Regions from separate parts of the Homo sapiens genome. Here region 1 is linked to region 2. Evidence: fine-mapped expression QTL. A gene starts in region 2. The other region holds a variant in brackets. All regions are shown on one strand. Distances are between the middles of the regions.

The links. PIP is the estimated chance that this variant, and not a neighbour inherited with it, causes the effect. A credible set is the group of variants that fine-mapping cannot tell apart.
Region 1: its variant is the best candidate, but not a certain one, in a credible set for the expression of GALNT14 in whole blood (TOPMed, PIP 0.79).

Annotation. Positions count from the first base shown.
Region 1 is chr2:31,203,229-31,208,597 of GRCh38, reverse strand. CAPN14 (calpain 14) reads left to right here. Exons shown (of 22, transcript NM_001145122.2): 2 at 3,099-3,375. The coding sequence starts at 3,151. Among named protein-coding and RNA genes, the nearest start is that of CAPN14, 12 kb to the left of the region's middle. The variant C/T (reference allele first, on the strand shown) is at 2,232.
Region 2 is chr2:31,135,654-31,141,022 of GRCh38, reverse strand. It overlaps GALNT14 (polypeptide N-acetylgalactosaminyltransferase 14), which reads left to right and starts at 2,583. Exons shown (of 15, transcript NM_024572.4): 1 at 2,583-3,065. The coding sequence starts at 2,937.

The DNA.
Region 1 (5,369 bases), 68 kb before region 2:
AGATTGTGTGTGTATGTGTGTGCACGCACACATGTGGCCTCATTCTAAACTTTGGAGGGTGAGAGGAACCTGTGATGGGTGTTTTGTCTTCTGAGCCCATGATGTACTGTGCTTGTCACAAGATGTAGTATTTGCAGGCTTGAAGAGGAATCCAGGTATGACCCAGCACTTGGTAAGGAGGGCATGAGCCTGAGGGAGGTTCTGAAGCCAAGGGACCCTCTATCATTTTTCACAGGACAAGCAATAAAGATTGTTGTAAAGGCTTGAAGGGGCAAAAAGGGAGACCTTGCCTTTGTGAGGCCTCAAGTTTGTTTATAAATGTGCAGGTGGTAGAAGAAACTTCCTGGGAAGAAAATGGGGTAAGCCTGGGGGAAGCTTTGCCTACTCATCCACATTAGGGAAAAAAACTCCAGTTTTTTTTTGGAGTTTTTTTTTGGAGTCAAAAAAATAAAAGACCTGAGTAACAGCTTTTGAGTTTCTGTGACCTGGGTTAGAAGAGGGCTGGGTCTTCCCCCAGGAAGTACACAGGCACCCGTGACAAATAAGAATAGCCAGGAATCGACTGCCCTCAGCTCTCAGAGGTAAGGGTGTGAGACAAACAACATTCCAGCAGTGCTAATCCTGCAGAGGATTCAAAAGCCATTAGGCAGAAGAGGCTTCTGTGCATACATCACTCAGAGCAGAACCACAGTGGGGCCACTCCACCAACTGGTCACTGGCAGTGCTTGATGAGCTACCTACAAAACTGAGAGCAAGTGTTTAGAAACTTTTATAGCAATTGATCAAATAATTTAAATTTAATTTAATTTTTGTTGAATCTAACTTCTTTTTTGAGACAGAGTCTTGCTCTGCTTCCCAGGCTGGAGTGCAGTGCCGCCATCTCTGTTCACTGCAAACTCTACCTCCCGGCTCAAGTGATCCTCCTGTCTCAGCCTCCCAAGTAGCTAAGATTACAGTCATACATCACCATGCCTAGCTAATTTTTGTATTTTTATGTAGACGAAGTTTTGCCATGTTGCCCCAGCTGGTATCGAACTTCTGGGCTCAAGTGATTTGCCCACCTTGGCTTCCCAAAGTGCTGGGATTACAGATGTGAGCCCTTGCACCTGACCTGAAAAAATCTTAAAGGGGGACTTGACTTTATGTATCTTTTAAAATGTTATGTTTGTATTTATTCATTTTCATTAAATTTCTATGACAAATCGGAAATAAAAGAACATAGGCCCTTCACTAGTGATAATTTGAGAAGCACCAAGACAGTAGGTGCCCAATGGGGCAGACAATGGGTCCATAGACAGAATGAGGGGATCTCAGCGAATGCCAGGCACTCAAGGAGGGCTTCCTGGGGAAAGGACTCAAGTTAGACTTTGGGGGATGGGCAGGACCTTGACAAATGGAGAGGACCCCAGGTCACTCCTACAGCCATGAGGGAGAAGTCACACTCAGTATAAGCACATTTGCGAGTTACTTTTAGGGCATGTACATTCTGTCCCAAACACTGTGCGGGGTGTAATAGGCAGTTTGTAGCACTGAGAGCTGAACATTGTTATGGGAGTCAGGGCTCTGGGTTCTGGATACAGCCCTTATAAAATCTCCCTGTATAGCACCAGGAAGATCATTTAACCCTTCTCGCTCTCCCACCCTCTAAACTGTAAGAGCCATGAGGGCAGGGACTGTCTTTGGTGAGCAGTGCCTACCTCAAGCCTGACAAATGATAAGTTCCCAGTAAAATTTTTGGTGAATGAATGGACAGGTTTCAGTTGTAACACCTGAAAAATGGGGAGGCTAATAAGATTAGTGGTTTTGCAACTGTAAAATGAAAAACTATATTGTGTAGCCAACCTGTCCTGCAAGAAGCTCCAGGAAATCAAGTTTTGTAGCTGGGTTATCAAAATGGATTCTGGTAACAAGGAAAAGGGGAGAATGGGCACGTACTGGCAACTGTTGGTATTTGGCACAATATGTGTGTGTGTGATTTTTTTGTCCCCCTTTTACATTAGCAAGAAAGTCTTCAAGGAAGGATTTCTTTGTAAAGAGAATGTAGGCTGGGCATGGTGGCTCACGCCTGTAATCTCTCAACACTTTGGGAGGCCAAGGCGGGTAGATCACTTGAGGTCAGGAGTTCGAGACCAGCCTGGCCAACATGGCGAAACCCCATCTCTGCTAAAAATACAAAAATTAGCTGGGTGTGGTGGCGGGCGTCTGTATCTGATGCACTGCCGGCTCGCCCA[C/T]GCCAACCTGCAGCCCTGCCAGAGCCTGTGACCGCCCGTGGGGGCCTTCTGTGAGAGACCCACGCACCCTGTGCTGGAGCCTGGGGTTTTACCCTTGACCCGGAGCGCAGCTGGGGGCTCCTGGGATGGGAGAGACATCCTTGGGAGGCCTCCACGTGGGAGCTGCTGGCCCCCAGCACCCCCTGCGGCCTTGCTAATCCCAGCTACTCGGGAGACTGAGGCAGGAGAATTGCTTGAACCTGGAAGCCAGGGGTTGCATTGAGCCGAGATCGCGCCACTGCACTCCAGCCTGGGCAACAGAATGAGACTCTGTCTCAAAAAAAAAAAATAAATAAATAAAAAAAATAAAGATAATGTAGGAGGAGGTTTTGCAGGGAAGAATAAGGAGGACATTGAAGCAGGAGGAATGCTGTGTGTCTGTAGCTGGGAGGCAGGAGTTGGCAGGCCTGGTGGAGGCCTGAGCAGGCAGCCACTACTCCCCACTACCTTGGCAGGCACAGGACCCTCCGGCCCAGGGGACTGAGCTCCAGCTTCCTGCTTCTCTTCTCCTGCCTCCCCACTAAGCAGAAGGGACCCCCGTGACATTGGTGCAGTCAGGGGCCCAGGACTCAGCCCTGAGGCTTGAGAGAACTTTCCCTTCTGTAGGCTTTTGCCACAAGATCCCTGATCTCCCACCAGGTCCTCAAGCACTTGAGTGAGTGCTCAAGGACCCACACTCTCTGGGACAAAATCGAACCACCTGCTTCTGTCTCTTTCTCACCAGCTGACTTCTCCGCTCCCATTCTCTCCATCCTTCCCCTCGTCTCTGTGGCAATGGCAAAGCACAAGGAGGAAGTGAGGAAACTGACCGTCCTCTCTCCATTTCAGGAGCAGCAGAGACTCCTCAGGAAGACTCACTGGACTGTACCCACCACCTGCCATGTCTCTGTGGCCACCTTTCCGATGCAGATGGAAGCTGGCGCCAAGGTACTCTAGGAGGGCGTCTCCACAGCAACCCCAACAGGACTTTGAGGCCCTGCTGGCAGAGTGCCTGAGGAATGGCTGCCTCTTTGAAGACACCAGCTTCCCGGCCACCCTGAGCTCCATCGGCAGTGGCTCCCTGCTGCAGAAGCTGCCACCCCGCCTGCAGTGGAAGAGGCCCCCGGTGAGGCAAAATGTGTCAGCCCAGACCCTCCTTCCCCAGGGTTTAGGGCTTTCAGATACTGCGCCTAAGATATATGGGAGAAAAAAACAGGCTTTTTCCTACTCTCTCCTCTCCACTCAACACAACACACTCTTCTAACACCAGATGTGTAGGAGGTTTTCCCCACATGCCAAGCAATTCTCTGGTGGCCACCATCTGGGTATTCTGTAATGAAATTTAATTCCGACACTGTCTACCTAGAGACGGTGTCAGATCTCACAGGTTGAGTGTTCATCCCACAAAACTGCCCCTACTTCAGATGGCAATCACAAGTCCCAGGTTGTGACCTGTACTCACGACCAGCCATAAATCAGGACCGTGATTCCCATGATCCCCTCCTTGGGTTTGATTAATTTGCTAGAGAGGCTCACAGGACTCAGGGAAATGCTTCGCTTACATTTAATGATTTATTTTAAAGGGTATGACAAAGGATGCAGATGACAGCCAGGTGGAAGAGATGCACAGGGCAAGGCATGGGGAAGGGGTGTGGAGCTCTCATGCCCTCCCTGGTTGTGGCACCCTCCAGGGACCTCCGTGTGTTCAGATATTCAGAGCTCCTTACACCCTGTCCTTTTGGGTTTTTATAGAGGCTTTATTACCTAGGCATGATTGATTACATCATTGGCCTTTGGTGATCAATTTAACCTTCAGTTTCCCTCCCCTCCCCAGTGATCAGGGGGTGGGGCTGAAACTCCCAACCTTCTAATCCTGCCTTGGTCTTTCCAATGACCAGACCCTATCCTGAAGCTACCTAGGGACCACCAGTCACCAGTCAATCATTAGCATACGAAGGACACTCTTATCACTCTAGAGGTTCCCAAGGTTTTAGGAGCTGAATGTCAGAAAACTGAGCAAATGAAGACCAAATATATATTTCACAATATCACACCAGGTCTTACTGTCATTGATCTCCATGAGAAGGGATGGGTATGTTCCCACATTCTCACTTTCCAGATGGAAAAAACCAAGGGTGATTTTGAGAATGGTCTAAGATGTAGCCCTCCCTCAGTCCTGCCCAGAAATATGCAGAACAGCTATAGCCAAAAATATATCAAGGTACTGTTTAGCTTCATCTGAGATGGCAAGGCTTCCTGAGTCACAGCCAATACCATCTGCCAGAGAGATAAATTTTAACATCTCTCCAACCTCCTACCCCCAAAACAGGTTCATGAAACATTTAAATTAAGAAGCTATTAATCACTTTACAAAAGTATTCTTCACTCTATAAAATGCATCAATTCCTTTAAAAAGCAACTTCTTAATGTGTTCAAATGTAATCCATCTCCCTGAAACTTGATTTACCTACAAGATTTCAGGAACACAGCTAGTGAACAGGGTAAAGTGTAAGCCTGTGCCACAGACTTTCCTTTTCTCTTCCCTACTCACCCATCACCATCGATACCTGCAGCCCCAGACTTATGAAGTCCCTACTGTGTGTAAAATTCTGCAGTGAGCCTCCTAAACTACATGGCAGCCAAGATCCTACTTCTCTCAGAAAATCCTGGGAACTGCTGACATAGAGACTCTGTTCTACATCTGACTTGGGGAAACTGTGTCCGCGCAAAGACTGAGAATATAAATCTTGCCACGGAGCAGAGACAACCCCCCTACCACCCCATCACAGGCTGCATCGCATCAGGAAAAGCCAAAAAGAACATCATATTAGGGGTCAGGAATAAGAAGGAGGAATAGGGGAGAAAAAAGCGAAAGAGAAGATATCTAGGAAAACTGAAAATACCTCCTATAAAAGTGTTTCCATTTTTAATAGAAACTCTAAGAAAAGGCATTTTTGGTATAAGTGCTATTTCTCAATATCTACACAGAGTTCTCCAGGGCTCTGACTTACACGAGCTATAAGAAGGAATGAGAAATACAAAGGACAGAATTCTGTATCCCAGATCTTCTGGGATAGCACTGATTACACCTATATTCTGTATCTTTGTCCCCATAAGTAC
Region 2 (5,369 bases):
CTCAAAATCCTGGGCTCAAGTAATCCTCCTGTCTTAGCCTCCCAATTGGCTGGGACTAGAGACACCTGCCACTTCGCCTGGCTATTTTGTTGTTGTTGTTGTTGTTTAGAGACAAGCTCTCGCTATGTTGCCCAGGCTTAAAGCTGGTTATTAAAGCGTTTCAAATATATTCCTGAGCATGGGGGACCCCTGGATAGACTGGGTTCCTGGAGAGACCTACAGAACTAGGCCCCGCATGGACACTCACTTCACTTCCAGATGTTTGAAGTCCCACTTGAAATCTACTTCAGTCCTAATGATATTTACTGGTTTGACAACCCAAACTGATATCTGATATGATCTCTGGATGGATCAGCTAATGACACCTAGCAAAACTGGATTCCCTTGACAGCTTCCATAGGCCCAGGAAATCTTCCTCACTTGAGTAGAGGACAAAATAATGATTTGAGAAGAAAATCATTCCTGGAAGGAAATTCCCACTCTCTGAGACATTGCAGTCCCTGCACGGAGCTGCCTTCACCCCAGGGCCTCAGTTTCCCCATATGCCAAACAGTCAGAATGAGGCACCTCAGCATCTCAGCAGTGTGGTGAGCAGCGTGGTGGTGCTGCACCATCTCAAAAGCTTGGCGGTGTTCTTGTGTAACTGTCTGCCATCTGTTACTCAGAAGCGGCATTACAAAGCGCTGAGCAATGGACTCCTGTGCTGCAGCTTCTGCCTGGAGCCAACAGCAGCTCAGCAGCTTGCCTGGGGGTCCCCTGCAGAGCCTGCAGCAGAACGCTTTGCAGGCCCGAAACTGCAGGTCCCGGGTGAGGCTCCTGAAAGAGGTCCAAGGTGCTTGGGATGCTGCAGAGGTGAGTTCTCTTGCTGCTCCCCCTACCCCTCCCATGATGATCATCTACCTGGGCCTTTGCTGGGACAAAGCATTGGCTGGGGAGCCTACTCCCACCTTTCAGTGTTCAGAGTTCTGATAAAGGCAAATGCTAGATCAACCCTGGGGTTCTGTGTGATGGTCTAAGAGCGCAGGTAGATCTTGAAAGGGCTGGCAACAGTGCTCACCTTTTCTGGGCTGTTTAATTTCAACTGCGGTTCCCAACCCCAAACATCTTATCTACAGTCCAGTCAAGAACTCTCTGAGGTTGAGGCAGGACTTCCCTGTGGCTGAAAGATAAGGTACCAAAAACAGGAGGCTTTGAGTAGACGCCTCCATTTCTCAGTACATGTCTTTGGGGAGACATCTTATTGAAGAAGGAATTCCAGAGCCCTGATTTACAGCTGTCTCACCTGTGCGGAGGTATGGGAGCTTGCCCTACACTGAGCTTTATGGGGAGAGAGGGGCAGGGAGAATGGTGGCTGCCACAGTGGGTGCATCGTTCTCACCTCCCCAAGAAACTCGATGAAGCAAGCAACCCTCCAACAAAAATGGCATGGTTCCCGCTGCCTCTGCTCCCCAGACAGAGCAAGGTTTCCCCACTTTGAGTGGTCAGATAACACCAGCACCTTGCATTCAGCTTTCACCACTACTCATTTGCTTGTCAGAGGAGGTATTTTCCCTCCATTTTACAGATGAGGAATCGAAGACTGGGAGAAGGTAAATGACTTACCCAAGACTCACACAGTGAGTGTGACAGCTAGGTCAGTACTCTCTGGTCAGTGATCTGGCCGTGATTCCAGCCTACTTGAGCCTACATGGGAATTGGAGTTAGAATTTGCTTTGCTTCTAGATCCAAGCGGTTTTAATCTGCAAGTGGGAGGGGGATACAATTCCCAAAGGCCCTTGGGAAAAGGGGCTTTTGAAAGATCACCCTCTGCACCCAGTATCCTCCTGCCCAGGGTCACTTTCCAAGAATCCCAAGTGGTTGTTCCAACTTTGGACCTCTTTTCTTGCAAGCACAAAGCCCTGATGCTTACAGGGAGAGAAAACCTTTATGGGAGATAATTGCGCCTTAATTTTTTAAAGGATATCTTTAAAGTTAAAATTAGACCAGCTCAGCTTTCCTTCCGTTAAGCAGAAAAAGTTACCAGGCACCTGCAGGCAGGCATAGAAACACCCTGGGGAGTTGGCTGACCGCGGCCTTGGCCCTCAGTAGCCAGGCAAGTGAACCGCGGGTTTGGGGCAGCAGCCCTGCCGGCGCCCTGGAATCCCAGCCTTGGCTGTGGTAGGACGAGCACATTGGGGGTGGGACCCCGGCTTCAGCGCCACGTGCAGCCCCCGCGATGAGCGGGAAAGTCCTCCCAGGCACAGCGCCGCCTGGCGAGGGCCGGCCCTTGGGTCCCAGCTGGCAGCTGGGGGTGGCGGGCATCCCGAGTGCACCGCTCCCGCCCCGCCCCGCCTTGCCCCAACCCACGATGGTCTGGGAGCTGCGCCCAGGGCTTGGCGCTGGCGGCCCCGCAACAGCACCGAGCGTTTCGGTCGGCGGGCGGCGGTAGCGCCCCCTCTCAGAGCCCCGCTCACTCCCACCTGGGCTCGCTCCGAGTCGGCCTGTCTGTCGGGCCCGCCCTCCCCGCTCACTCCCTCCGCCCTCGTGCTCCTCCCGGGGTGCTTGGCACAGCCTCGGATTCCTCCCTCTCGCTGCTCGAGTCAGTTTCCCTATCGGCGGCAGCGGGCAAGGCGGCGGCGGCGGCGGCGGCAGCCGCGGTGGCGGCGTGGGGAACATCTCGGCAGCCACCGCGCTTCTCCCGCTGGAGCGGGCGTCCAGCTTGGCTGCCCTCGGTCCTTCCCTGCCACGTTTCGGGTCGCCCTGCACCCCCCACCCAGGCTCGCTTCTCTTCGAAGCGGGAAGGGCGCCTTGCAGGATCCTGCCGCCCCTCCAACCGGATCCTGGGTCTAGAGCTCCCCAGAGCGAGGCGCTCGCCAGGACTCCTGCCCCGCCAACCCTGACCGCCGGGGGGTGCCCCCGGGACGTAGCGCCGCGGAGAGGAAGCGGCAAAGGGGACCATGCGGCGCCTGACTCGTCGGCTGGTTCTGCCAGTCTTCGGGGTGCTCTGGATCACGGTGCTGCTGTTCTTCTGGGTAACCAAGAGGAAGTTGGAGGTGCCGACGGGACCTGAAGTGCAGACCCCTAAGGTAGGCGGCTTGCCGGCGCGCTGGCGCTGAGCGGTGGCTTGCGGGAGGGCGCGCAGCCCGCGTGCCGGGTTTGCGGGCTCCCGGGAAACCAGGGCGAGGGTCTGGGTGCTGCGAGCAGGTAACAGCCGCCGGATGTGGCTACCATGTGATGTTTCTGGATTTTAAAACGCTCGGGGGCATCTCCGGACCCGCGGTGTGCATGAGTGGCAGTGGGTGTGGGTGGTGGGCGCGCGCTCGCCTGCGGAGCGGGGCTCCCAACTTGAGCTGCGCGCGAGGGTCCCGGGGCGGAGGGGGCTCTGCGGACGGGCGGCCCAGGGGCTGGCGGTCTCCGGGCGCTGCCAGAGAGTCGCCGGCGGTCGGGTCGGGCCAGCGCCCGGGCGAAGTGTGGCGGCTGCGCTGACCTCCTTCCCGCAGCTGCCAGGCCCGACCTGGGGAGGCCGGAGGCCGGGTGCGCCGCGCGCGCCTGTGCGTTGCGGGCGAGCGCCTTGCAGCCTCCCGGGCGGCTGCCACCCCTGTTCTCTAACTGTTCCCGACCCTCTCAGCTGCATTGGAAGTTGAATGTGCCCAGAACACCACGAAAGAGCCTGTAAAAACAGACGCCTTGGTATTGGCGGGGAGTTGAGGAAATGGGAATCCAAGTGGCTTTTCCAACTCCTGCTCAGTCAGTTCCTGTGAGGGAGCCAGAAGGTTCCCCCTATAGGCTCACTCTTACCTTCAGATTCAGAGCCCTGTAGGGGGAAAGGGAAAACTTCCCCATGGCTCTCCGAAGGTTCACTGAAAATCAGTTGACAAAAGGCAGATCAATAGGAGAAAAGGCATAATAATTTATTTGATCATAGTTTTTCGTGACATGGTAGCCTTCCGTTTTCTCTTCACAGATTTGGCCCGGGGACACGGAAGGAGGCCTCTGGGGGATTTCCTGGCCAGCCAGGCAGTCTTTATAAACTGGGTCCAGAACAGTCGTCTAGGGGTCTGGGCAAAAGCCTTGGAGGAGCTTATGGTCGGAAATGGGAGACTGAAAAACAGGAAGATGTGGGCGGGAGGTGGCGTCTCACCAGTTAAGTACAGTACAGAGGGCCTACTGTGTGCCAGGTGCATAGTAGGTGCCTTCCTCATAAGTAGTTGTAGGAGTTGGGTGGTAATATGCTTGTTTCATAGATCAGGAAAACAGGTTCAGGGTCTTTAAGTCACGTACCTTAAGTCGTTCTACTGGTTTGAACTCCAGCCTCCACGCTCAGGGTTTCCAGTATATCAAGTTGCCTCTCGGTTTCCCCTTTTTAACCAAGTCTTCTAGCACTTATGTTCTGGAATCTTGCCAATGCTTTGTCGATTTCAACAAGCATTTATTTAGCACCTATTGTGTGCTCAGGCAGTGTGTTAGGTGCTATGGGTAGAGAGAGATAGAATTTACTCTCTGGGGGGAGAGGAGTTCACTCATCATTGGACCAGGATGTGAGGTGTGCATAGGGCTAAGAGGGTTCAGTGCACTGGGTGTCATGGGAGCCTGAGGTCTCCCTGGAGGAGGAGGACATAACAGAGCTGAGCTGAGAAGGATAAACAGGTTTGTCAGTAGGTAGAAAGGGCATTCCAGGTAGAGGTTAACTGCATGAAACAGGCTCAGAGGAATGACACAGCACGTTGTGTGAGTTTGGCATAATTTGAGCACAAAGTATGTGGAGGTTGGAGGGATAAAGTTTAGGGAGGTGTGTAGGGGCTGGGTGGGGTAGAATCTTGTGGGTGTGAGGACTCTTGGAGAGGGTCAGGCAGTGAGGTGGCGAGGCCAGATTGATGACTTCAAACCACCTTTAATAGCACCAGATCACTTTTCTCACTCAGCCCCTGCCCATAGATCTGGAGAGCTTTTCTTCTTTTTCCCTAGGTGGTTCTGCTCCCTGTGATGTAGTTAATGATACCTGCAGGGACATGAACTTTCTCTGTTTTGCTTCGACCCTCATTACCTTAAGCTTGCTTATTCTTAGTTTACACCAGGGATCTGGGACAAGAGACCTGTTTCTTTCTTTGTGCACTCTTTGTCCCTCCTCCTCTCCTGCCTCTTCTTATCCTGGCGTGTGCTCAGCACACATCTATCACAGGCAGCTGTATGCCAGGCTCTGTGCTGGGTTTGGGGGCTGCTATGATGAGCACGCTGTGTCCCTGTCCTTTGGCATGGGGGTGGGGGGCCACATAAGTTGCAGGATGAGGCAGAATTACCAACAAATGAGTGGTACTTTAAGGTGGGGAGTGGTTTAGTAGCAGAAGTCAGGACATTGTACTGTGCAGTCACAAAAGAGGAGGTTTTCTAGT